Homo sapiens: one gene and its partners. The protein of the gene in region 2 purifies or fractionates together with the protein of the main gene of each other region. This does not show direct contact. Each region holds a gene or a part of one and is shown on either strand. Other genes may lie near its edges.

Evidence for each region.
Region 1: the proteins of VEGFB (region 2) and COL6A2 purify together in Homo sapiens (affinity purification with mass spectrometry; 2 studies listed by BioGRID and IntAct, with this or other methods). This does not show direct contact.
Region 3: the proteins of VEGFB (region 2) and DGCR2 purify together in Homo sapiens (affinity purification with mass spectrometry; one large-scale study listed by BioGRID and IntAct). This does not show direct contact.
Region 4: the proteins of VEGFB (region 2) and KREMEN2 purify together in Homo sapiens (affinity purification with mass spectrometry; one large-scale study listed by BioGRID and IntAct). This does not show direct contact.
Region 5: the proteins of VEGFB (region 2) and PPM1M purify together in Homo sapiens (co-immunoprecipitation; 2 studies listed by BioGRID and IntAct, with this or other methods). This does not show direct contact.
Region 6: the proteins of VEGFB (region 2) and ZMYM4 purify together in Homo sapiens (co-immunoprecipitation; one large-scale study listed by IntAct). This does not show direct contact.
Region 7: the proteins of VEGFB (region 2) and ARHGEF28 purify together in Homo sapiens (co-immunoprecipitation; one large-scale study listed by IntAct). This does not show direct contact.

The regions. Positions count from the first base shown.
Region 1 is NC_000021.9:46,104,612-46,108,111, reverse strand, and holds part of COL6A2 (collagen alpha-2(VI) chain isoform 2C2 precursor), read right to left. Parts: intron 1-3,500. UniProt on the Homo sapiens protein: Collagen VI acts as a cell-binding protein.
Region 2 is NC_000011.10:64,233,333-64,237,383, forward strand, and holds the start of VEGFB (vascular endothelial growth factor B isoform VEGFB-186 precursor), read left to right. Parts: upstream 1-1,251; 5' UTR 1,252-1,501; coding exon 1,502-1,561; intron 1,562-2,125; coding exon 2,126-2,168; intron 2,169-2,480; coding exon 2,481-2,677; intron 2,678-2,921; coding exon 2,922-2,995; intron 2,996-3,854; coding exon 3,855-3,890; intron 3,891-4,051. Other genes in the region: DNAJC4 (dnaJ homolog subfamily C member 4), read left to right, coding at 562-781. UniProt on the Homo sapiens protein: Growth factor for endothelial cells. VEGF-B167 binds heparin and neuropilin-1 whereas the binding to neuropilin-1 of VEGF-B186 is regulated by proteolysis.
Region 3 is NC_000022.11:19,056,413-19,059,912, forward strand, and holds part of DGCR2 (integral membrane protein DGCR2/IDD isoform 1 precursor), read right to left. Parts: intron 751-3,500; coding exon 574-750; intron 1-573. UniProt on the Homo sapiens protein: Putative adhesion receptor, that could be involved in cell-cell or cell-matrix interactions required for normal cell differentiation and migration.
Region 4 is NC_000016.10:2,962,811-2,967,074, reverse strand, and holds the start of KREMEN2 (kremen protein 2 isoform d precursor), read right to left. Parts: upstream 2,801-4,264; 5' UTR 2,555-2,800; coding exon 2,461-2,554; intron 2,217-2,460; coding exon 2,042-2,216; intron 936-2,041; coding exon 844-935; intron 751-843; coding exon 626-750; intron 434-625; coding exon 280-433; intron 166-279; coding exon 1-165. UniProt on the Homo sapiens protein: Receptor for Dickkopf proteins. Cooperates with DKK1/2 to inhibit Wnt/beta-catenin signaling by promoting the endocytosis of Wnt receptors LRP5 and LRP6.
Region 5 is NC_000003.12:52,244,523-52,248,558, reverse strand, and holds the start of PPM1M (protein phosphatase 1M), read right to left. Parts: upstream 2,801-4,036; 5' UTR 2,735-2,800; coding exon 2,511-2,734; intron 2,393-2,510; exon of another isoform or gene 2,245-2,392; intron 1,865-2,244; coding exon 1,747-1,864; intron 1,586-1,746; coding exon 1,331-1,585; intron 878-1,330; coding exon 765-877; intron 407-764; coding exon 322-406; intron 239-321; exon of another isoform or gene 225-238; coding exon 106-224; intron 1-105.
Region 6 is NC_000001.11:35,359,209-35,362,708, reverse strand, and holds part of ZMYM4 (zinc finger MYM-type protein 4), read right to left. Parts: coding exon 3,263-3,500; intron 3,108-3,262; exon of another isoform or gene 2,932-3,107; intron 1,516-2,931; coding exon 1,454-1,515; intron 1,091-1,453; coding exon 920-1,090; intron 519-919; exon of another isoform or gene 443-518; intron 1-442. UniProt on the Homo sapiens protein: Plays a role in the regulation of cell morphology and cytoskeletal organization.
Region 7 is NC_000005.10:73,629,196-73,632,695, reverse strand, and holds part of ARHGEF28 (rho guanine nucleotide exchange factor 28), read right to left. Parts: intron 1-3,500. UniProt on the Homo sapiens protein: Functions as a RHOA-specific guanine nucleotide exchange factor regulating signaling pathways downstream of integrins and growth factor receptors. Functions in axonal branching, synapse formation and dendritic morphogenesis.

The DNA of each region.
Region 1 (3,500 bases), on a different chromosome or scaffold from region 2:
AAAAATATATATATATATAGACAGAGAGAAAGAGAGAAAGAAAGAGAAAGGAGGGGAGATTAGGGAGAGAAAATTTAGTGAGCCACTTAGAAAAATATATCATTGATGAAAAGAGTCAAACTCTGTAAAATATTTTAAGAGATTTATTCTGAGCCAAATATGAGTGGCCATGACCCATGACACAGCCCTTAGGAGGTCCTGAGAACATGTACCCAAGGTGGCTGGGGTGCAGCTCGGTTTTATTCATTTTAGGGAGGCATGAGACATCAATCAAATACATTTAAGAAATACATTGGTTTAATCCAGAAAGGCAGGAAAATTCAAAGCGGGGAGAGATGGCTTCCAGGCTACAGGTAAATTTAAACATTTTCTGGTTGACAATTGGTTGAGTTTGTCTAAAGACCTGGGATCATAGAAAGGAAATGCTCAGGTTAAGATAAAAGACTGTGGAGACCAAGGTTCTTCTGAAGTCTCATAGTGGCTGCCCTTAGAGACAATCAATGACAAGTGTTTCCTACTGAGACCTTTAAAAGCTGCTAGACTCTCGGTTAATCTCTTCAGAATTGGGAGGGCCTGGAAGAAAAAGAGCTAGCTATGTTAACAGAGATTCCTTACAGATGCAAATTTTCCCCAGTAAAGGACAGCTTTGCAGGGCCATTTCAAAATGTGGCAAAGAAACATGTTTTGGGGTAAAATATTTTTATTTTCTTCTTGGTCGTGTAGTGTCATGCCAGAGTCAGATGGAAAGTAAGTCACAGCATATAGGGTTAGATAAAACCATCTGATGAGAATTTATGGTTTGTAGGGCATGACTCCCCAGACCCCTTAGATAAGAATATAGGCAAGATAAAAAAATCAGAGCTTAGTCCTCAACATACAAAAAGTTATTGATTTTCTTCTATCAGTTAGAAGAAACATTTTCTAACAACCAGTTAGAAAATGTTGCAGAAAAATGCTATTTACACTAGTAAGAAAAACAACATAAACCCAAGGAATCAACTGAATAAAAATGTGCAGGACTTATGAAAAAAACTCAAAAAAATTTTTGAGAAATATATTGGAAAGACAAACCTTGTTTTTGGATAAGAAATCATCCCACTATCTTAAACTGATTTAAAAATATCAGTTATTCCTAACTGAATCTATAATAGAATGCAATTTTAATTAAAGTTTCCAAGAAAATTTTTTGCATTTTTGTAGATAGGAGTTTGCAAAATGAATCCAAGTTTTACTTGGTAGAAAAAGCAAGAAGAGTTGAGCAAAATAAAAAATAGAGTGATGAGAAAGCTTGTGCTATCAAATGAAACGATAAAATTACAGTTTTGGTTTTGGTGCTGGAACAGGCCAACACTCCACACAACCATGGGCATAACAACACACGAGAACTTAGGCTATGACATGGTGGCCTTTCAGAGTGGTGGAAGCAGGCTGGGATGAGGGCTCACCCTGTGACTAGAAATAAAGGTACTACCTCACATGGTGCTCCCAAATAAACTCCAGGAAAAGGAAGTATCTGAGTGCAAAACAGGAACCAAAAAGTCTTTGAAGAAAACAGAATGTATAAAATGTCAATGAAAAATCTATAATAATTGTGTACCAGATACTGTCCTATATCCCTTCATTCAACATTCACAATTGGACTTATGGCCTTGGACATAGGTACTATTACCATCCCCACTCCAACAGATGAGGAAACCAAGGCCCAGTGAGGTAACTTGCCCAGGGCACTCAGCTAATAGCTGAGGTCTGAAGCCTGGCAGTGTGGGCTCAAGTCTGCCCTCTTGACACTGAGCTCCCACATATGACCATCATTACAACAAAAGCAATATGAGCAGACTGGAAGCAGACTGAGAGCCAGCAACAATCTTCCCAGTGTAAGATATAAATATTTTGATGGACTGTTATTAGGTGCATAAATATTTATAATTATTATATCTTGCTGTATTGAGCCTTTTATTAATATATGATGTCCTTCTTTCCCTCTTGTAACCTTTTTTGATTTAAAGCCTATCTTGTCTGGTATTAGTATAGCCACTCTTGCTCTCTTTTGGTTACTATTTGTGTGGCATGTCATTGCCCATCCTTTCACTGTCAATCTATTTATGTTTCTGGATCTAAAGTGCATCTCTTGTAGAGAGCATATAGTTGGATTTGGCTTTCTAAATCCATTCTGCCAATCTCTGTCTTTTAACAGAGAGAGTTTGGAGAGTTTAATCCATTTACATCTAAAGTAATTACTGATAAAGAGGGACTTCTTTCATTTTGCATTTTTTTTCTGTATACCTTATGGATTTTTTTGTCCTTAATTTCCAGTATCACTGTCTTGTGTTTAATTAATTTTTTTGATGGTGAAACATTTAAATCCCTTCCTCATTCCCTTTTGTATTTATTCTTTAGTTATTTTCTTTGTTGTTACCATGGGGATTGCATTTTAACATCCTAAAATTATAACAGTCTACACTGAATTTATACCAGTTTAGCTTCAATGGCATAAACAAAACTCTGCTCCCTGAATGGCTCTGTCCCCAACCCTTTTAGTTATTGATGTCACAAAATTACACCTTTATATATTATGTGTCCAAAAGCATAATGTTATTTTTAAATCAGTCTCTTAAATTATGTAGAAAACAAAAAGCAGCATTACACACCATTGTTACAGCAATATTAGCTTTTATAATTGTCTATATATTTACCTTTACTGAGATATTTATTTATTTATTTATTTTGAGATAAGGTCTTGCTCTGTTGCCCAGGCTGGAGTGCAGTGGTGTGGTGACAGCTCACTGCAGCTTCAACCTCCCAGGCCCAAATGATTCTCCCACCTCAGCCTCCCCAGTAGTTGGGACCACAGGTGTGCACCACCATGCTTGGTCGATTTTTAAAAATATTTTTATTTTATAGAGATAGGGTCTCCCTATATTGCTCAGGCTGGTCTTGAACTCCTGGGCTCAAGTTATCCTCCTGCCTCGGCCTCCCAAAGTGATGGGGTTACAAGCATGAGCCACTATGCCTGGCTGAGATCTTTACTTCTTCACTTGAATTACTGTCTATCACCCTTTATTTCAACCCGCAGGACTCCCTTTGGCGTTTCCTATAGGGCAGGTCTAGTGGTAAGGAACATTCTCAGCTTTTGTTGATCTAAGAATGTGTTAATTTCTCCCTTACTTTTAAAGGACAGTTTTGCTGGATGTGGGCTTCTTGGTAGACAGTTTTTATTCTTTTAGCACTTTGGATATATTGGCCCACTGCCTTGTGGCCTTCAAAGTTTCTGATCAGAAATCTGCTAATAGTTTTATTGAGGATTCCTTACATGTGATGAATCATTCTTTCTTGCTGTTTTCAAAATCTTTGTCTTTGGGTTTTGACAATTTGATTAGAATGTTTCAGTGTGGGTCTCTTTGAGTTCATCCTGCTTGGAGCTTTTTGGGCTTCTTGGATGGTTATATTCATGTCATTCATCATATTTTAGAAGTTTTCAGCCATTATTTCTTCAAATAGTC
Region 2 (4,051 bases):
GGTTCAAGCAATTCTTCTGTCTCAGCCTCCCGAGTAGCTGGGACTACAGGCGTCCACCACCACACCCGGCTAGTTGTTTTGTATTTTTAGTAGAGATGGGGTTTCACCATATTGGCCAGGCTGGTCTCAAACTCCTGACCTCAGGTGATCCACCCGCCTCAGCCTCCCAAAGTACTGGGATTACAGGTGAGAGCTACCGCGCCTGGCCACAAAGCCGATTTTCTATAGCAGATACCTAAAGGCCAGTGCCCACTGCTAGCAGCCTGCCTAGTTCAGTGATGGAGTTAGACGCATACCCTTTCTAGTCTTCTGGGAGGAGCACCCCCATGTCCACAGCTGCTGTCACACCTCAAAGTGACCAGGGACTTCGGATGCCATTGGACCCTAGACAAGCCAGGGCCACTCTGAGCCCTCCCTATCTATCACAGGAAGGGTTAGACTGAGGTTCCTAACCCTGTGTAAGGGTAAAAAGCTGTGAGGCCCCTAGAGTGGGGTGGAAGGGGGCAGGACTTCAGGGACAGCAGGAATTGGATTCCCAGGGTTAATTGTGACCCATTGCAGGAAGGTGAAGCAGATGCACCTTAACTTCATGGATGAAAAGGATCGGATCATCACAGCCTTCTACAACGAAGCCCGGGCACGGGCCAGGTCTGTCCCTGCTCTATTCTGCTCCCTGCTCCCTGTCCAGGAACCACACTTCGGGATCCCTATCCCAACCACCCAGGTGCCCTCTCCTCCAGGGCCAACAGAGGCATCCTTCAGCAGGAGCGACAACGGCTAGGGCAGCGGCAGCCGCCACCATCCGAGCCAACCCAAGGCCCCGAGATCGTGCCCCGGGGCGCCGGCCCCTGAGGGGCTCACCTGGATGGGGCCTGCAGTGCGTTCCCGCTTTGCTTCCTTCCCTGGACGGCCCGCTCCCCGAAACGCGCGCAATAAAGTGATTCGCAGAGCTCGTGTCCGGCTCCCTCCTTAAGGCCCGACGCCCCCGGCCCCGGCCTCGCCAAGGGGCAGCGCCCCGCCCTCCGGGTAGTGGCGGCGGCGACTGGGGAGCCCAGCCTCCTGGGCGGTGCGTCCCCTTTCCCCTGCCGCGGCGGGAGGCGGGAGGGGGTGTGTGGAGGAGGCGGGCCCCGCCGACGGCCTCGCCCCCCCACCCCGCCGCCCCGCCCCCGCCCCACGGGCCGGTGGGGAGCGCGTGTCTGGGTCACATGAGCCGCCTGCCCGCCAGCCCGGGCCCAGCCCCCCGCCGCCCCCGCCGTCCCCGCCGCCGCTGCCCGCCGCCACCGGCCGCCCGCCCGCCCGGCTCCTCCGGCCGCCTCCGCTGCGCTGCGCTGCGCTGCCTGCACCCAGGGCTCGGGAGGGGGCCGCGGAGGAGTCGCCCCCCGCGCCCGGCCCCCGCCCGCCGCGCCCGGGCCCGCGCCATGGGGCTCTGGCTGTCGCCGCCCCCCGCGCCGCCGGGCTAGGGCGATGCGGGCGCCCCCGGCGGGCGGCCCCGGCGGGCACCATGAGCCCTCTGCTCCGCCGCCTGCTGCTCGCCGCACTCCTGCAGCTGGCCCCCGCCCAGGTACGTGCGGCCCGACAGCGCGCCCGCCCGCCCGCCGTGCCCTCTCTCAAGGTTGGCGGAAGTGAGGAGGCGACCCGCGGCCTCGGCCGAGGGGATCTGCGGGGTCCGGCCTTGGACGCGGGCGTCTCGGGGGCCCGGCGCGTGCATCCCCTGGGAGGTGCCCCTCCCCGCTGGCCCGCCAGCCCCAGTCTGGGGCCACTCCTCCGCCCCACCCCGTCCCCTGGGCACCGCCGGGGGCGGGGCTCCCTCGGTGCCTGCAGGACCTGCTTCGGTGGGCACTGTGCGCGCTCCTGATCTGCATGCAGCCCCCAAACATGCTCGGCTCCGCGGCCTGGAGATTTGGCGCGGCCACCAGAGCACCTGTTGCGTTTTGGGCCAGGGCAGGTCCCGGGTGGCCAGGAGAGGACAGGTAAAGCTAGAGCAGTGGCCGCAGGAACAGAGCAATCTGGAAAGATGTCAGAGAGGTGGTGAAGCCTACTGATGCAAGGGCAAAGCCCCAGGGACGGTGACAGGGCCACACCCTCCTAAAGTGTACCTTGGGTACAGGTCTTTTCTCTCCCACAGGCCCCTGTCTCCCAGCCTGATGCCCCTGGCCACCAGAGGAAAGGTAATACTTACAAAAACTCGGCACTAGCCAGCACTAAGAGGGTTTGTCATGGGCCCTGATTCCAGGTGTCCATCATCTTGTGTAACTCCCCTAGAAGATTCAAACTATTATTCTACCCATTTCACAGAGGAGGAAATTGAGGCAGTGGGGTTACTGGGATCTGGATAAACAGGGCAGGGGAAGACAGGTTGTGAGGGCAGAGTGGGGAGGGCTAGTGGAGGGTGGCTGTGACTTGGGGACTGGGGAGGACAGATGCTGGGAGCAGCTGCAGGAAAACCAGTGAGGACTTAACCCCTACCGGTCTGCTCCCAGTGGTGTCATGGATAGATGTGTATACTCGCGCTACCTGCCAGCCCCGGGAGGTGGTGGTGCCCTTGACTGTGGAGCTCATGGGCACCGTGGCCAAACAGCTGGTGCCCAGCTGCGTGACTGTGCAGCGCTGTGGTGGCTGCTGCCCTGACGATGGCCTGGAGTGTGTGCCCACTGGGCAGCACCAAGTCCGGATGCAGGTACTGGGCAGGTGGGGCAACGGGCAGGGGATGCAGGTACTGGGCAGGTGGGGCAGCGGGCAGGGTGGATGCTGGCTGGCTCTGGGGCTGGGGCAGCCTGGAGACTGATGCACAGGAGACAGGGTTGGGGGGAGGGCTGGTGGCCAGCCTCCCGGCTGTTGGGTGAGCTTTTCTCCCTTCAGTCTTAGAGCATCCCCTTTCTCTCTCTCCCTCACTGTCCCCCCTGTTCTTCTCCTGAGCACAGATCCTCATGATCCGGTACCCGAGCAGTCAGCTGGGGGAGATGTCCCTGGAAGAACACAGCCAGTGTGAATGCAGGTGCCAGCCAGGCCCAACTTCTGAGCTCGCAGAGGCCAGGCTTGGGGGGTGCTGGGTATGGTGGTCCACAGAACTGGGGACCAGGTTCCTAAGAGTAGAACCAAGGGGCCGGGCGTGGTAGCTCACGCCTGTAATCCCAGCACTTTGGGAGGCCGAGGCGGGCGGATCATGAGGTCAGGAGATCGAGACCATCCTGGCTAACATGGTAAAAACCTGTCTCTACTAAAAAAATACAAAAAATTAGCCGGGCGTGGTGGCGGGCACCTGTAGTCCCAGCTACTCCGGAGGCTGAGGCAGGAGAATGGCATGAACCTGGGAGGCGTAGCTTGCAGTGAGCCAAGATCGTGCCACTGCATTCCAGCCTGGGCGACAGAGCAAGACTCTGCCACAAAAAAAAAAAAAAAAAAAAAAAAAAAAGAGTAGAGCCAAGGGTAGGCCTTGGATCTGGGGCAACAAAGTAGGATGCTTGGGCCGGGGGTAGTGGCTCACACCTATAATCCCAGCACTTTGGGAGGCCCAGGCAGGCAGATCACCTGAGGTAAGGCGTTTGAGACCAGCCTGGCCAACATGGTGAAACCCCATCTCTACTAAAAAAAAATACAAAAATTAGCCGCGCATGGTGGCAGGTGCCTGTAATCCCAGCTACTTGGGAGGCTGAGACAAGAGAATAGCTTGAACCTGGGAGGCGGAGGTTGCAGTGAGCCGAGACCACGCCACTGCACTCCAGCCTGGGCAAGAAGAGGGAAACACAGTCTCAAAGAGAGAGAGAGAGAGAGAGAGAGAGAGAGAGAGAGAGTAGGATGCTGGGATTTCCTGATCTTCCTCTTGTTTGTCTGTGTCTGTCTATCTTACTTTTCAGACCTAAAAAAAAGGACAGTGCTGTGAAGCCAGACAGGTGAGTCTTTTGGACTCCAGCTGAGTAGGGGTATGGGGAGTACAAGTGAGTCCAGAAGCTGTTGCTCCTCTTTCTCCTCCCACCCGTCCCCCACTTTCCCTTTTCCTCTGCTCCCCAAGCCTGTGTTCTCTGCCCCGACCCCAGCTCTAGGGAAGACTCTT
Region 3 (3,500 bases), on a different chromosome or scaffold from region 2:
ACCTGCGCACAGCTGCCATCCCAGAGCCAGCGCCATCCTGCGAAGCCAGAAGCCTGTGATGGTGAAGAGGAAGGGGACCTGCCCCACCAAGAGCTCCTGAGACCCCTGTCCCCCAAAAGCAATAGAGTTAGCTGGCTTTAATAAAAAAAAAAAAACACACACACCATAGACTGGCAAGGTAAACAGAGAAGCAGAGAAGCAGAGAGAAGGATGGCAGAAATGGGGGGTGGGGAGGTGACAAACAGCCTTAGATGCTCCAGAGATGCCAAGTCCTTGGGTCCTCATTCCCATTTACTCTCTTAACAACACTGCAACAGGGAGGACAGGGATGATTGTCTCTTCCGTGGGAAAAGAAGCTGGGCTCTAAGATGCTTCCGTGGGCTCTAAGATGCTGACCAGCTGCCCTGGTCACAGAGCTGCAAATGGGCCCCAAGAACAAGGTGTGAGCTGGTAAGGGGCGTCCACCGCAACACTGCAAATCAGGTTCTGCCTCCGAAACCTTGAACTCAGGGTCCAACAAAGTGACACAAGGGCCCAGACATTCCCCAAGAACGCCAGCTCAAGGGGGCTTACTTCTTTTACACAGAAATGAAGACTTCTCGTAGCAGCTCTCGGCGTGCCAGCTGTGGAGGTCGTGGTGCCGCAGGGTGGGGAAATGGAAGCACTGAAGCTGGGCACAGAACACGTTGTCGTTCTCAGACATGGCCGAGGCAAAGATGGGGTCTGGGGGCAGGAACACCTCTGAAGAGCCTGTTGGGGAGACAAAAGGTGGGGCTGGACAACATCACATCAGAGGACAAGCTGTGCAGTCCTCAAGGGGACCATGGCGTCAGACAGGATCATCAACCACAGGGCCTGGACCGCCAAGTACTGGTGGTCACTGTGGCCAGGTGTTCACTCGGGACTCCCCAACCTCCTGGGAGTCACCCCAGGTGCTGGGCCTAGCGGGAGCCACTCCTTGGAGCCTGCAAGCACACAGGCCACAAACCCTGGGTAGCAGTAAGTGCCAGCCTGAGCACCAGAAGAGGGTGCTGGATCACGGTTAGTGGGTGGCATTTAAAGTTAGAGCAACAGCATAATAACAAAGTAATGGATTGTGGCACACTGGATTAAAATGCAAACAGGGGAATGGGCAAGGGAAACAGGCAGGGAAGCTCTCCCTTAGGACAGCACACTCAGATAAACAGAAGACTTACAAAGTCCACCCAACACCCAGGAGAAAGGCGCCGTCAGGCAGCATTGGCACTGGCCGGCACTGCCAGCAGCTGGCTGCAGGGAACACTTAGGAAGCACTGGCTCCCGGGGACCTCTCTCAGCTCAAGGGAAACTGTCACCCACTCAGCTCCTGCCTAAGCCAGGCACAAGGCAGTCAGAAACCGTGTACCCCTGCCGCAGAGAGCGTGAGGGTTGGGGACTGCTAACCTCCAAGCCTCTCTTTTGCAAGGTTCCAGGTGGGCTCTGGCCATGCCCAGGGCATGGCACAGCCAGCCCTAGGCCCCACTCTCTCCCCTGCACGGCCCTTCCAGTCTGGGCTGCCAAGATTCCTTGAGGCTTACCCGACCAGGATCAATGGAAACACAAAGCAACCTTTCCAAGAAGCAGAATAATGAAGGCACACCTGGTGCTCTCCCCCTCCTAAGACAGCAGCAGTGCAGCTCACCCCATTTATAAGCCTCCAGCATTCTCACCTGCGTCTTTTGGAGCTCTGTTTATACCCAGCACGAAACATGGGGCTCTGCCTCAAAAAAGCCAGTGAGTCTGGAGGCAGGCCTATGCTGTGGGCCTGTGGACACATGGTGCCCTGCCATGGGCAGGAGGACAGCTCTCAGGAAGCTCTGAGACCTGCAAGACCTGTGCCAGGCCAGCAGGCAGCCACAGCAACAGCTGTGCCCCCTTCCCAGGGACATACAGGCCCAGCATCTCGCCTGCCTCATCTGCATCTATCAGACCCACAGCAGAGCAGGAAAGGGGCCCACTGTCTGGAGTCACCTCCCCATACCACCTGGAGGGCTGGTCTCCACTGCTGACAGTGGGTGCCACCACCATCACGCTGTGCACCACCCCACCTTTCCTCCAGGCCCCCGAGCCCCTGCACACCCTCCTCATCTCCCACAGATGCCTTCTCACCTAAGTAGAGCCCCTCCCCTTTTAAACACTGTTTTCTTCACTATTTGCCTTCTTGTCCCGTGGCAAGAAAACCAAACAGGTTCCTTCCAATCTTTAACAAACAAAAAATCTTCAGCGCTGAAGCTAGTTGCCAGCTAAGAGCTCCTGCCCACAACTACAGTACATGACAGCAGACTGAGACCAAGGACACAAATGACCTCTCCGGGCAGAGTCCTGGGACCCAGCATTTGCCCACGAAAGCTGCCTGGACCGGGGCACAGCAAGTCAGAGTGAGTCAGGCAACCAGCAAAACAGGGTTCGTGTGGCACTCTAGGCCAGGGCCCAGAGAGCCACACAGTGCTCCCTCCTGGCAGCAAGCTGCATGGGCACCTGTGTAGCGCCCCTGCCCAGGGGAGCTGCTGGTGGCTCTGCATCCAGGTGCTGAATGGGGGCTGGTCATGCGGGCACTGCATGCCTACCCGAGGTGCAGCCTTGCAGAGCGGGCAGGTGTTCGTCTTTGGAGCATCCCTGGAAGAGGTCACAGTGGCAGCCATGAACAAGGCAGCCTGTGGGGCTGGAGAAGAGGCTGGGGAGTGGTAGGTGATGAGGGTAGTGAAGGAAGGGGCTGCTGGCCTTGATGGAACTGTGATTTCTATGAGAAACGAGAGCTGTGAACAAGGGAGCAGAGGTGAAAAGGACCCCCAGCAGCTGTGTGAGGAGCGGTGGGGCTGGGGCCAGGAGACCAGACAGAGGCCACGAGCACAATCGGGTGACGGATGATTGGGTGTTAGATCCCGGTGGGGGCTGCAAGACTGGTGCCAGGTGATGAGATCCTGGACATATTCCAAAGGTGTGAGAGGAGCCTGGAGGCTTCCCGATACTGCACTGGGGATGACTCCTGCAGATTTTCCTCCAGGGCCTCCCACTTCCTCCTGGACACCCCCTTACCTCAAACATCCCGCTCTTCCTGAAGGACCCTCATCCTAGAGAAAGGCCCTGTGAGCAGAGCTGCCCTGGCTACCAGAGTGACTGGGAGCAGTTCCTCGTGCAGAGCCCTCCTCTCAAGCCTCCCTCCAAGACACTACTCCTCACCCCCTGCCACCCCAGCAGATCCAGTCCTCACCTCGACAGGGTGGCGGCAAGTTTCCAGGTGCCCCTCCCATATGTCCACACATGAGGTGTGCGCAGGACTCTGACGGGAGCCTTGGGCTGGGCCGTCACCAGCCACCGGAGGACACCCTGCTCCCCAGACTGATACACGAGGGCATCTGAACCTGATTACCTCTGCCACCACATCCTCTCCCACATGTGCGAGCAGCCACTGCCACCTCCATGTCCACCGCTGCTCGCCGAGCCTGGAGAACCCTCCCCGGCCCCCGAGTCCCCCATTGTTC
Region 4 (4,264 bases), on a different chromosome or scaffold from region 2:
GCGGGTCGGCCAGCTCGAAGAGGCGGAAGGTGAGCTCCAGCGCGGCGCCTGGCGGGCCCAGGGCCCAGCTGCAGTTCCGGTCCGGCCCGTACTCGTCCGGGAAGTCCGGGGAGTAGATGACGCCCTGAGGCGCTGTCCAGTTCCCCTGGCAGGAGCCCACCGACACTGCGGGCGGGGCCGGCAGTCAGCATCCTGAGGACCAGGACACGGCGGCTCCCCTGCCCGGCCAGGCCCCACCTCGAGGCCCGCCCAGGCCCCTGGTCCCCGCCCACTCCTCACCTTCATAGACGCCCAGCCGCCCATCGCCGCCACACAGCTGTCCAGGGTGGCCGAAACAGATCTGGTCACAGTCGGTGGCGGGGGCCAGGCGTCCCCGGGCCAGGTCGCTTTCAGAGCCACAGAAGCAGGCGTAACCGGCCTCCACGCCCGCCAGCTGGGAGCACAGACTGGGTGACCCCAGGGCAGGGGCTGGGGTAGGGGTGAAGTGGTGGGGGCCTGGGGTCGGGGTGGGAATCGGGCTGGAGGTTCAGAAACCGGTGTCTGGGTTTGGCAACCGAGTGTTGGGAGTTGAGTGTGGTCTTTAGGTCCAGGTCAGGGGTCACTGGTCTGGGCCCGTGAGCAGTACCTGGTACCCCTTCATGCGGCAGAAGCGTAGGCACACCTGGACCGTGAGCTTCGTGGAGGTGCCGCTGGGGCCGCTGAGGGCTGGGGGTGCCCCTGAGTCCACAAAGCATCCCAGGTAGCCTGGCACTGAGGGGGCAGAGTCAGACTTCCGTGACTCCGAAAACAACCCTCCTCCCAGATGCAGCAGCGTTCCCACCTCTGTCCAGCCGCGCTACTCACTGTGACAGGAGGGGATGTCGCAGTAGCGCCAGTAGATGCCCTCCTCTGTCTCAGCCACGTAGCACCACGGCTGCACGTCACCGTCTGGGTTACTGCGGGTGGGAGGGAGGTGGTGGGGCTCCCACCACCCCAAGAATAGCAAACCCAGGCCCGGCCCCGCAGCCTATGCTCAAAGTGGCCTTCAAGGCTCTGTGCCTGTGAGCGGCTGTGCTGCCTGCTGTACACCCACAAATTCCAGTTTTGTCTACGCAGAACTCTGCCTGATGAAGGAACTGGACGTCGACTTCCGAGTGGACAGCGGGAAGTCATTAAAGGGGACTTGAGAGCTGTTTTTAGGCTTCAGCTGTTGCTAGACTTGACTCCATATATGAGGACTTTGAGGCCATCTGTATTCTTCACCCCCACCCGGCATGGGCCTCAGCCACTTCCGTCCCTCAAACCCCACTTTTTTTTTTTTTTTTTGAGACGAGTCTCGCTCTGTCACCCAGGCTAGAGTGCATTGGCGCGATCTCTGCTCACTGCAAGCTCCGCCTCCCGGGTTCAAGCGATTCTCCTGCCTCAGCCTCCTGAGTAGCTGGGATTACAGGCGCCCGCCACCATGCCCCGCTAATTTTTTGTATTTTTAGTAGAAATGGGGTTTCACCATGGTAGCCAGGCTGGTCTCGAACTCCTGACCTCAGATGATCCGCCTGCCTTGGCCTCCCAAAGTGCTGGGATTACAGGCTGAGCCACCGCGCCTGGCCTCCAACCCCACTTAAAAGCAGAAGTGAGCTCCTGAGCTTTGCGGCTCTCCTCCCGCTGGGTCCATCCTGCCTCAGACCGTAGCTGTGGCTCTGAACCCCAAAATAAGTTGTATGACAAGAGCCCCACTCTGACAAGGCCCCGCCCATTCGGCCCCCGCTCTGACCAGGCCCCGCCCATACGGGTCCTTTGAGTGCCCAGGTCCGTTTCTCTCCTGGCCCTGAACTGGAGCTCTGCAGAAATTGTTCACCTGAGGAGGATCCCTTTTGCGCCAGGGTTCCGCGCGCCCCGCCCCGCCCCGCCCCGCCCCTCATTCTGGCCCCGCCCCCAGGTTCTCCAGGAGGCTGGGCTGCCAGTCCACGGCAGACCTCCACCCCGCCCGCACGGAGGCCCCGCTTCGGGCCATCCCTGCAATGGTGAGCCCAGCCTCGCCCCCAGCGCAGGCCCCGCCCCTCACCGGCAGAAGTTGTGCGCGCCCAGCCCCCAGCGGCCGTGGGGGTCGCTGGCGCTGCTGTAGCTGTGTTGCTGCGTCTGGTCCCAGAAGAGGCACGGGCGGCCCGCCCCGCGCGGGCCAGTGCGGTTCTGGTGGCCGCGGTAGTCAGCCCCATTCACCTGGAAGCATTCGGACAGGCCTGCACGGCAAAGGCAGGGCCTGGGGAGGTCCGGACCCACGCCGGGCATCCTCGCGCCCCTACGCCACCTCCCGCCTGGGTCCCCAGCCAGCGACCCCGCACCCGCCCCTGCAGGAGCCCTCGGGCTGCTCAGCTGCTCCGGCCACCTGCTCTGTCCCCCTCCCTAGCCTTGGGGGCCTGGCCCTGGGGGCGGAGGCCGAGGAAGGGGTGGTGAACACGGCCCGACAGCCGTGCGGGGACTTACCTGGACTGTGCAGGCTCCCAGCCGAGGCCCCACGCGGCTGCAGCAGCGGGAGGAAGAGGAGAAAGAGGAAGCCCTGCAGGGCTTGTGTCCCCATCGCTCTCAACCAAGGATAGGTCACCCTCGCCCGGACACGGCCCGGGCTGCCCCCGGGGTCGCTTCGGGGTCTCCCAGGAGACCTAGGGGGCGTTGTCCTCTGACAGTCTCCCCTCGTCCGACTCTGAGCCGCGCTTTCCGTCTGGGGTGGGTAAATCTCTCCTGGGGGTCTTTGCCTCCCAGGGCCTCTGCCCCTAGAGGCGTCTCTCTGTCCCTGTCCCTACCCGGGTCTCTCCGGGGGGAATCTGGCCGGGGGCGTTCTCAGTCTCTGTCTCAGCGAGCTCTGGGCGGTGCCTCAGCCTCTACGCCCGCCCCCTCCCACTGAGCCTAGCTCTCGGCGTCTCCCTCGCCCAGGTCTCCAACGGGCTGACTCCTGCCCGCCTCGCATCCCTCCGTGGGTCCCTCCCCCTGGGTCTCTCCCTCCCCCCATGGGAGGCCGGGAAGCCCCGCCCAGCACTGGAGCGGAGGCAGCAGGTCCAGACGCCTCCCACGCCCGTTCCCCCGACCCCGGGCGTCCAGCGCTTCCCGGCCCCCTCTCCCTCAGGTCGGTGCCGGTTCAAGTGGGAAGGTGTGGAGGGGGACAGGCGGGGCAAGCGGACGGAAGGCCCTTAAAATGGGAGATACAGAACCCCCTCACGTGGTCGCACGCGCCCCAGGACACCCGGAATGTCCGAGTTACAAGCGCCCTCCTCCCAGTGCACGCACGCGCTCGCACTCTCTCCCATTCATTGCCAGGCGCTCACGCGCACACTTTCTTCGGATCCGCACGCCCCTCCCGCCCCTGGTCCAGATGCCGCTGGCCTGACGGAGGAAGCTCCACTCCCTGCCCCCGCGCCCACGAGACAGGCGGGAGTCGTGGACGCTCAGTCCGGGACAGGCAGGGGCAGCTGGTGTCTGGGGAGAAAGGCAGCTGCGCCCCAGGTCCCAGTCTGTCCCCTCCTCCTCCCCCTGCCCCGCCCTTCCCTGGGACCCCCAGCCCAGACTCTCCCGAGCCTTCACACTGCAGTGGAATTCCCCCAGCCGTGCCCCCCACCTGGCGGGGGAGGGGGAGGGGAGCAGGCCCAGGCAGGCGTGGGGGGAAATTCCCCGCCCCCTCCCCCTGGGCCCGACTCCTCCGAGTCCTCTGATCTCCCAGCGCCACCCGCCCGCTGCCCCCAGGGCTTGGGGGGAGGCCAGCGCAGGTGCGTGGGAGGGCGGAGGCGGGGGCCGGGGGAAGGAACTGGTGGGGGCCGGGCGCCCAGAGCGGCCCCGCCCCGCCCAGACCTCTTTGCCCCTCAGTCCAGCCTGCCCAGCCCGCACCAGGCCCTCGCCAAGCTGTCGAGCCCAGGCCGACCAGTCCCCGCCCTGCAGCCCCCACACCGTCTCTGCCCCGGTGTCGATGGAGAAGAAAGATGGGGTTCAGGGAGGTTCTGTCAGGCCCAGGCACCCACTGCGGTGCTGGGACCCGCGAGGATCTTCCAGCTGGCGCCTCACGCGAGTGTGCTCTGGAGGAGGGGCGTGGAGCCGAGGTGGGGGCATTTGAAGGAGATGGACTTGCTGAGACTCTAGGCCAGGGTCCTGGTCGCCTCCTCCGGGAGCCCTCTCAGAGGCCAGGCTGGCCCGGCTCACTGAGCCCTGAGCTGGGGCCTCCAGCACCCACGGGCTCCCTGGAACCCAACTGCGCTTCCCGACGAGGGAGCATCCGGGACCACCTGTCTGCCCGGTTTCTCTT
Region 5 (4,036 bases), on a different chromosome or scaffold from region 2:
ACCCTCACAGTGCCACCCTGCCAAGGTGGAGGGGGGCCCCAGGCCATACGGCTGGGCCTGGATCCCAGGGGTCTCCCTTCCTACCTGTCCCCCATCCCCACTCACCAGCCACTCATGTGGTGATCCCTGAACAAAACCTTCTGTCCCAAGTCATCCCCCTTCAGCCGCCGAGGGAACTCCAGTCGGGTGAACTCACCAGCCAGAAGCTCAGGATAGACAAAGGCCTGGGGTGGGGAGGCTGCGCTCAGGTCATACTCCTTCTTATGGCCCTGGACCCAGGAGTTGGAGCTTCACAGCCTCCATGCTGCCAAGGGCACCTACCAGCTGCTGGATCCGCTGCCGCTCAGTCTCTGGGGTGAACTCGAAGCTCAGTGGCCGTATCTCATCTCTCCGCACCAAGATGGCCCTGGATTGAGGAGAGAAGGGAGAGGTCTAGGAGGAGGCCTCCACCCTCACCCATGGCCACCCTCCTACCAGTCCCTCCTCCAACCACCAGGATCCAGCTCTGTCCATGATGATCCCTTAAAGCCCTCCATGACTACCTAAGACCTGCAAGGGTGAAGGCTTAGCCCTTTAGCGGGGCCTTTGAGGTCCCTGCCCTCCCCGGCAGCCACTGTCCACACTCGACACATAACAAGTACACACACAATTCAGCCAGTCAATCCTTCCTACTATCCCTCCACTTCCAGCCACCTTTGCTTGTCCCCATTGCTGCTTATGCCCTCCCCATCCCACCCTTGCCCACCCTCCAAGGGGTGACTCACCTGCTATCCCCAGCATTGGCCATGTACAGCTTTCCCTGCAGGGACACAGCCACCAGGGCTGTGCAGCCGCCCATCTGGCCTGAGGCCTCCAGCTCCCGCCCGATCACCTCATCCTGGGGAAAACCGAGGCCACCTTAGCTGCTGCCTGTTCTGCCACCATACTACTTTGTCTCTCAATCCCCACCCTACCCTACAGTTCACTTCTACCAGCAGGCCTGACAGTCCCAGCCCAAAGTCCAGCCATACCTCCAAGATCCCTGCAGTCAGGAGATCTAGACAAGGGAAGTGCTACTCAAAATAGGAAGAGAAACCAGCCCCTGCACCAAGGACCAATAGGGTATTCAATTAGATGATGCAGGTAAAAGCAGTTAGCACACAGTAGGTGCTGGATAAATGAGAGGGGTTATGCTGATAGTGATGGCTGTTAGTAACAATCCAACCAACCCAATCTCATCCTCCCAATCCAAGGATCTGGTGTGATGACCATGGGTATACAGAGATGCCATTTCCTGAGATCCCCGGGGCAAAATCTCCACTTCTTCCCCAGCCAAAAGCCACACACTCACACATTCCTGAAAGGCACTCTCCAATGCCCCGATCACCAAGTCTTCTGCCCTGATGCCCTTTTCCTCCACAAACTGAGGGTCACTGGGGCAGATGCAGCGGCCATTGAGGTGCATGGGGGGCTGAGTGGCCACCAAGCCTTCCACCACGGCCTCCAGCTGCCGGCGCAAGCAGGAGTGCAGGGTGTTGGCAGCCAAGATGGCTGCTGCAGGACCGCCGTGCCCATCGAACAGTGCCCAGTAATGGCCTGTCAGGAACTGCACAGGAAGGGCTCAGTGTCAGCCTCTGCCTGACTTCCCCACTTGTCCCCTGACGCAACCTAACTAGGACCTGGGGCAGCAGGGTAAGAACCTCAGCCTGCAGGTCGTGGCCCCAGCCTGTCGGAGGGATTCCAGCCAAGAACTCAGACTGCACTCACCTCCTCTGGGCACAGGGTCAGCCACTCTTCTTCAGCCCCAAACTCACATCTCCGGATGCACAGCTTCCCACAGGCGGCTTGATCCTCATTGAATTCAGATTTCTCTGCATTGATAATCCTGAGGCCGGGAAATGGTAAGCGACCCTCCAGGGACACACCTATGTCCCCATGGGCACAGGGACCCAAGCCAGCACAGGGAGAAGACCCCTCCCTCTGGGGCAACAGCTCCCCAGTGCTGTCCCTAACACACACTTAGACAACCACGATGTAAGCTTCCTAACTTCACTGGCCTCATGGCTAAGGTAAAAGTCAGGGCCCAGCTCCTCTGGAGCCTACCTGGTGACCCAGGGCTAGACGGTAAGGGTAGGTTGCCATTCCTGCCCCTGTCCTGTCGCAGCCCAAAGCCCTGTCCCATACAGCGCAGGTCATACCCAGGGTGAGATGGTGGGGGTAGAGGGCGAGGGGAAATCTCCAAAGCCCCGAATGCTGGAACTCTACCGAGTCTCTGGGCCTCATCTTGGAAGCCCCTGGGCTGCAGGTCCTTCCCGACCTCCTGTCTTCTCTGAGGGGGAGGTCGGAATCCCAAGGAAAACGCTGGGTCGGGATGACCGGGAAGTTGTCAGGATTCGGAGGTGAGGGCAAGAAGGGGCTGTCCACAGGTGGGTGGGGACTGTCACTCAGCTCCTCCCGCTTTCTAGGCGGGCGCAGGACCCGAAGCGGGTTCAGGCCCGGGCCTGAGCTGGGGGTCGGGGAGGGGCACTCACTCGGCGTAGCCTGCATTCCAGGGTAGCGTGCGTCCTCGTGCGGGGCTGCGCACGGGCCGGGAGTCTGGGCGGCGCGAGGCGTCGGCCGCCCCGGGGCTGGAGCTGGAGCCGCGAAGGAAGCGGGGCCGTCGGTAGGGCACGGGGCTGGCATGCGGCCCAGGCGGCCGCGGCGCGGGGAGCGGCTCCCCAGGCAGGAAGCGGCGCCGGAACCAGCCGGCGGACATGGCGCGGCGGCAGGGGGCTGCCCGCGGAGCGCGGGGCGCTAGGGCTGGGCCGCCCGCGGGAGGAAGAAGCGGGCCGCGGGCGGAGCCGAGGGAGGGGTGCGCCGGCGGGAGGCGGGGCCGGGGGCGCGCAGACGGGAGGCGTCGCCCCCCAGCCCCGACCTCCGCCCGGGAGTGCGTGCGCGGCTGGTTCGCTGACTCCAGGGGTCAACGCTCGCGACCGCCTGAAGAAGCCCACGCCGGCATCAGCCCCATTTGACAAGCAGGAAAACCGAGGCCTAGAGAGGCGAAGTCGCCTGCCCAGCGTCCCACAGTAGCCAGGGAGGACTGTTCACCCACGCTTGCGGGGCACTGGTGGTTGAGAGGAAAAGTCCCCCACACTCCGCGGGGCCAGCGTCGCGCAGATCCTCGGACCTCCTCCTGCTGGGTGGGGACCTGACGCAAGGGGAAGATGGGGACAAAATGAGCTGGGAGGTGTCAGACCCCCACATTGAGTAAATGCCACCGAGCACAGGTTCCTTCAGGCGGCCTCCAATCCTCTCCACCCCGGCCTGCCACCCTCCACCCCAGACGGGCTTAGTGGGCACCTTGGCTTTCCCCGTCCTGAGAGGCTGCTGCCACCCTCGAGGACAGTCTTCCAAATGGCTGTCCCTGCATTCAAGATGTCTTCGCGGAATAGACAGCAGGATCCTTACTGGACTGTGAGTGAGTGACGGACAAGAGAAATCTGTGTGAGTGTAAAGGGGAATCCGTGGTCCCCCAAAGGCTCCAGCTGGTCCGAGTTCAGACCTGGGACGGAGGGAAGTGAAAGACGAGGAACCATCTTGCGGTCTCTCAACCACTGGCTAGCTGTCACCAGGCGGTCAGCCGCAGTGTCCCCTTCACATCTGCGAGTTAACAAAGCACTTTGTCACCCATTTGTCACTCAAGTCCAACTCCCTGTGCAAAAGTGTTACTTTGGCCGGAGGCAGTGGCTCACGCCTGTAATCCCAGTGCTTTGGGAGGCCGAGGCGGGCGGATCACTTGAGGTCAGGAGTTCGAGACCAGCCTGGCCAACATGGTGAAACCCCGTCTGTACTAAAAATTAGCCAAGCGTGGTGGTGTGCGCCTGTAATCCCAGTTACTCAGAAGGCTGGGGCACAAGAATCGGTTGAACCCAGGAGGCAGAAGTTGCAGTGAGCCGAGATGGAGCCACTGCACTCCAGCCAGGGCAACAGAGCGAGACTCAGTCTCAAAAAAAAGAGTGTTACATCATATGGACGATTCTGAGGCCCATGGAGGGGAAGTCTTGGACACCCAGGGCTG
Region 6 (3,500 bases), on a different chromosome or scaffold from region 2:
GAAAAAACAAAAAGAAAGAAAAGAAAAAGAAAGCACTTCCACAGAAGTCTGACAGTCTCAAACCTTCTAATATAAACAGAAAGATAGGAAAATATAAGCTTCCCCCAGATTAAATGTCATTTCAGAAAAAGAGCCAATTCATACCATCTTTACAAAACACAGATACCCTCAAATAATTGCTGCTATTGCATATTCGTCCCTTGGACCCCTTCTTGCACTTCAAAATGATTGCAGCATCTGATATAACTTTTTTCTTCTATTCCAACAACAGCAACATCATTAACTGCATGGATAGCTTAGCTGACTTCAGGACCTCACAGTTTTAAGATCTCTATGATTTTATCTCCAGAGCAACCTTGAAATAGCAGAGCTCTACCTTCACTCTTATTACTCACAGATCTCAAACTTGGAATCATGTATCATTCATCAAAGCCTCCTTTACCTTCTATCCACTAATCCAATGAACTGGTTCTTCAATCAATTAACCCTTCCAAAGATGATCTGTCCATTAACCCCTCCTGAAAAATATTTAAATCCATATATAGCCTGTACTTCATTAGCATTAACTGCAAAAGGCTTACTATCCTACATAAACTTGATTGCACCACAAACTTATAAACTACCATAAATCTTCAACCATATCTGCTGTATAGTTCTCAAAGCCTTGCGCTAAAATGCATTGCAAAAATCACAGTGGTATTAAGAAACAAAGATGATTAAAAGCCTTAATTACTACTCAGGAAAAGTTTCATATAGCTCGTTAATGCCTTATATGGTAATTCAAATCGCCTCAACCTTCTTTAAGAGTTTCCTTTCACCCTGTCAACAAACTATTTCACTTCTTAAGCACTTCCTCTCTCAAATGAATAATTCAATGTGTGGAACAAAAAGAAGGGGGGAAAAAAGGTGAAATGTTTACTTGAGCATTGTCAGGTTCATCTTTTATTTTGTCTAGTAGTCCCTGCTGTGGTGCCATTGCTTTGTCATACTCATCATCCAAAGGTTCTTCTTTAATTCTAATATTTGATGCAAAGGAATTCCCCAGTTCCGAACCAATGGATTCTTTATTGGCAAATGGGTAGCTGGAATCCTAAAACACAATATAAAGGATTAATAAATATTCAGATTTTAAAATGATTCCTCTTCAGGTTTAACACCCAAAGAAAAGCTCATTGGAAATGAAGAACTCTATGGACATTCATTAGCTTTTGGATCTTATGCCTACGCCTAAAAGTAATTGTGTTATATGTCCAAATACCAAATACAAATAAAGACCCTAAGATTTGAGGCTTTTTAGAATGTCTCCGATGATGACCTTAAACAAATATTAAGCAAATTAAAAAAAAAAAATCAGTGCTCTACCTAATACATTGTTAGAATTTAGAAACTGACATAAAGAAAACTTTGACACTTGTCACAGTTACAGCAATCTACATACACACTGAAAACTTACCCTAAAGTTTGTTTCTGGGGTTTGTGGTAAATGGGTATGTAATGTTTCTTCAACTTGATTAGCTATTGAAAGGAAAAAAAAAACAAACAAACACATGTATATGAATAACAAATCTTACAAAGAGTGACCTAAAAAGCTATCATTTGATAATCACCTCTCTTTTCCAACAAAGATGCTCGTTAGAGTGAACTGGGTCCCAAAAACACCCAAAAGGTATTTTCACTCAAAGTTCTGCACAATCTGGCCCCACCTAGCTTTTAGCCTTACCCTACATTTTTTCCTTGCTCAAACCTAAAAAAAAAAAAAAAAAAATTATTTTTGCTCTGAAAATTGCTTGCATTTGTTCTCCCCCATTTCTACTTATTCTATTCCAAGTCCCCTCTGTCTATCCTAATCTTTATACAGTTTTCCAGACTCAGCTCAGTTAAAAATTCACCTCTCCTCTATAAAACCTTCCCTGTTCACTAAGTTAAAAATCATCTCTCTTCTAAGAATCCCTAAAACACAGTTTCAGTTATTTGAAAGACATCTTTTTGAACTGCCTTATGACAAACTCTTCTACCACTGTCTTTAACTGTAAATTAAATCTTACGCTATTCAGCTGGACATTGGCACTTCTACGGCCTGACTTGTCTTGTCCATTCTACTACTAGACATTATGTTCCTTGAGAAACATGACTCTCATACCCCAAGAAGGGATATTGGAAATATATACTGAATTATAGAGAAAAATATAGTATATCCTTGCACAGACTTGTACATACTCAAAAGCTGTCTTTTTAACAATACTGGTTTGTTCTTTCTACCATACATTTCCTAGCATTGTTAGAAGAAATACAAGGACTGGTATAGAATACTTGCTTTCCTTCACAGCTATTGAACATTTATTGAAGAATTACTATTTTACTACACCAGGTTAGGCCCCAAGAATACAAAGATGAGTAAGATACAATCTGGCCCTCAACTCCTACACTAGTAGGTAAGGTAAAACAAATATAGAACTATAATACTGTGTGATAAGTACTATAAATAATGAGGCATGAAAATGCTGTGGAAATATAGATAAGGAAACCATTCTTGATGTAGAGCAGTTAGAATGATGACAGAGTAGAAGAGGTTTATGAGTTAGGCATTGTTGGATAAGAAGTACTTTCACAAGCAAATATACAGAGAGAAAATGACATGCAGGCAAATGGAATAGCAGGAGGAAAGGAAGGCATAGAAGGAAATATGTGATATATTCAAGAATGTTAACTAAAGCTAAAGTATAGGGTACACTGGGCAAAGAGGCTCAGGAGGAACCTCAAGAAACTTCTAAAACATAAATTAGAAATGTTTGGGTTTTTTTTATTAAAAAAAAACTCCCTTTCAGATAGAGGTGAGAGTTAATAAACAAAAAATTAAATTAAAATTAAAAAAATAAAATAACTCCCTAATTTGGACTAAGTGGTGAGACAGCAGTTTGAATTAGTGCTTACAGCACAAAGAAGTTAAATCCAACTTCAGGTTCCAATGTTCAACCAAAGAAAATGAACAGGTGATTCAAGTATCTTGCCTTTCTCATCAAAACATTGCAACCAGGGGAGGGAGAAATGAGGTTTAGAGCTATTTTCAACCATTTATACCATTACCAAAAGTTACTGGGAGAAATTCAGTCACTCTGCAAAGAACAAGGACAAAAGAAAAATGACAAGCTTACAATGAATTTAACCGTTCATACTTCACTTAACATCAAAAGTAATAAAAGCTATATATTATGATCGGTAATTTTTAATTGTGTTTTATGGTTCTAAGTCCAACAATTATTACCTGCTTTATCAAAAAAACTGCTTTTCAACCTTGAATCCAAATCTTTATGGGGTTTATCCAACCGTTTTTCACGTTCATAAGTTAGGTCTCTATTTTTCTCCTTTCCAGAAAATGTCTCTTTGCTGTTTTCTCTTACTAGACTAAAATCTTTCCGTATTGATTTAAAGACAGAAACCTGATCAAATTGTTTAGGAAAGTCTTTTTTTAACTTATTTTGAATTTGTATTTCATTTTCATT
Region 7 (3,500 bases), on a different chromosome or scaffold from region 2:
TAACAAGGGCTGAAGAAACAGATTTTTATTTTCTAACCTCAATAAAAGAAGACTTGAAGGTAGGATATATAATTAATTTTTTTAAATGTTAGAGGCTACCATATAAGAGAAATTGTTCAGAATGGCCTCCACATAGCAGAACTGTGACAAACTTAGGATAAGGGAGAATTGTTTTTAAAAGTCTAAGCTTTCCAAATAGATGGATTATCTTTATGGTCATGAGGTCCTCATCACTGAAGGTATTCAAGGACAGACTGGTCAACCATTTGGAGATAGGCCATGCAGGGGAATTGTGCACCTTCTGGAGACTAGAGAAAAACTTTTAGGTTTCTTTCAATCCAAAGACTCAGATTTTAATCAAGAATTTCATTCATTTCCCCATGCAGGTTGATACAGTTTCCTCAGAGAGGTCCATGAGGTCTCCCATTTACATCTGGGAAGGACTAACTGTCTAATTCCTGAGCAAACTTTGCCCTCCTCCCCCTGTACCCCAGTGTTTTCCAACGCAATCCACATCGGATACCCAGGAAAACACCACCACTAGTACTTGCAGTGGTGCTGCAAACAAGAAGGACTTGAGACGACAGTTAGCAAAATAACTAAATAACTGACCAACACGTGTATATTCTACTTTGAGCACCCTACAAAGTAGCCTAAATCAGGGTCCCTGTCATTAATGGGCTACAGTCACGATGTAAAGTTGAGACTTATATACAGGAACACAAAATGAACCCAGGGACAGGTGGTAAGTAAAAAATGAGAGGGTGGTAGGAGTTCAAAAGGGAAAGCAGCACAGTTGCTACTAAGTTAGTTGAAGGTTACAGGCAGAAAGTGGTTTAAGCTGGGCTTTGAGGACTGCAATACTTGTTGGCAAGGGAGGAAAAGGGGCCCACTAGGAAAAAGTCAAAGAAGTCAGAAACACACAACATGTTCCATAGGCAGTACTAGTCCTGGCTAACAGAACTGGAGAGTTCACAAGGGAGAAACAGCAGGAGGCAGTTGACACACCAACAGCATAACAGTAACACCATGAGAAATAGCAGGTGTTACCCTTTCCCTAGGCACTGTGCAATGTAGGAAGCCAGAAACACCTAAAGATTAGGAAAGTAGCTATCAAACCCAGCTGTACATTAGAATCACCTCTTTAGAAAATGATGCCAGGTCCACTTGAGAGATTCTGAACCCAGGTGGTTCCAGTGAACAACAGGGCTTGAAATCCTGGGTTAGAGGCTCAAAGTAAAGAACCCATAGTCAGTAGTCTCATTAATCACTGAATATCCTCTACCTTTCAGAACTCTAACACCTGATCATACAGCAAACCAGGAGGCTGGTGAAGCAAGAAAAGGAGAAGCACTGTTGAAAAAGAACCAGTGACAATGTACAGACAGTAAATCAGGGTCTTAGTGGGAAAAGACAAAAATATAAGCCCCCGAGGGACTTTGTCTGAACCATCCAGCCCAATGAAACCTCTTGCTTTTCACCATACTTAAAAGTCCTTCATGAGACTTCTTTGCCTGATAGAAATTATTTTTATCATAAAATTAAACAGTCAGCCCACTTGTCTTTCCTCTTTCCAGAGCTATACCACCCCTCTTCTACATGAGGGGTTCTTCAGAAGAAGAGGACTAGGGCAGCCATATGGCCCACACAAGGAATCTGGACTTGCATGTCTGAAATCTCTTTGGACTAAGTCCAGGAAGATAACTCCAAGTCATTTAAACCTGATGACTGTCTGGTAGTCAAGGAGAGATAAGGAATAAGAGTGACAGCTCATCATCTATTCAAATGCCTATTGCAGGCACAATGCTAACCTTTTAGACAGTACCTTTCCAGTAGTGTTGACCAAGACAAGTAAAGCAAATTGACAAATACATCACATTCACATTCAATTCATCAAGACTGAGTAGAATGTTAAAAAATGGGTTGCTCTTAGAGGTCATCCAGTCTAATCCTTTCCATTTTACTGGATGAGGAAACTGGGACCAGATAGGGTTCCAGTAGGAATATTCACCCAAGGTCACAAAACTGGAAAGCCAGAGGACTCCATCCCTTCCTCCAACTCCCAGCCTAGGGCAATTTCTCCTGGGGTCACACTGACATCTCACTACCTTCTGAAAGCTGAAAAACCTGCTACCCTTTTATCCTTTTTAAATGGTTATTTTCCATTTGCTATAACTACAACTTACTCTCTGTCAGGCACTACCAGGAGGGTTCTCTGTAAATTAAATCACGGAGTCCTCACAACAGTTGAAGCAGGTTACTATTATTATCCGCATTTTACAAATGGAAAAACCTGAGGTAGAGAGAGGTCACATAGCCAGGGCAAAGTTGGGGCTATTTAACCCAGACAGTCTGGCTCCAAAGTCCACATTCTAACCCCCTTCATGAGAGTTTATGAAATATAATTTCTTGAATTATAAAATGATGGAAGAAAAGGAGTAAGTCTTAAACAGAAAGGGCATGGTCACTAGTGTTTGATAATGAATTGAAAAGCTAAACCATAAATGTCATTAATATATACAATATACGCTTCATCTATTTATTAAGGGAATGTCTATTATATATATTTGAAGCATATTAACATTTCAAGTGTATATTTTTTAAAGGCACAATGATCATGTGCACAGCAGTCACACAAAGCTTGCCACTAGAAATAGGCAGAATGCTATTTGCCTGCTGGCTTTGGAAAGGTCTCTTCTGAACAGGCTACTATGGAGAGCAAAGCCACCACTGCTGATTTCTGCCTGTTGGTCCTCACTCATAGACACATTTTCATCTGCTCTTAAGAGAACATCGCTTGTATGTTAACTTTCTACAGAAATCAGACCTCGAGTTATTTATAATTGAGGGAAAGATTAAACTAAAACAAGAGAAAACACCTCTGAAAATTAAAATACATTTTTATACAAGTGTTCAAAACCAGTATCACTGGAACAAATGCCCACTATTCAATTATATACTTTTTTACTTTCTCTCATTAAAAAATGATGTCAGATCTCATTATCTTGGTTATCCAGGAGAAGAAGTCCAGGAGCAATAATGTTACAAATAAGCAAATTACTATTGTGCCTGAGATCAAATTTCAAGGGAAAAATGGAAGTCAATTAAGAAGATGCACTATCACATTAAAAAAATAAGTTACATGACTTATTTTGCCAGTCAAATGTCTTTAATTTTTTTTTTTTTTTGAGACAGAGTCTTTTTCTGTCACCCAGACTGGAAATGTGGTGGCACCATCTCAGCTCACTGCAGCCTCTACTTCCCCAACTCAAGCTATCCTCCCCACTCTGCCTCTCAAGTAGCTGGGACTATAGGCACACACCACACACCACCATGCCTGGCTAGTTTTTGTATTTTTTTTGTAGAGACAGGGTTTTGCCATGTTGCCCAGGCTGGTCTTGAACTCCTGGGCTCAAGCAATCCTCCCACTTCAGCCTCTCAAAGTGTTGGGGTTATGTGCATGAGCCACCACCCCCACCCTGGCCAGCCAAATGTCTTAA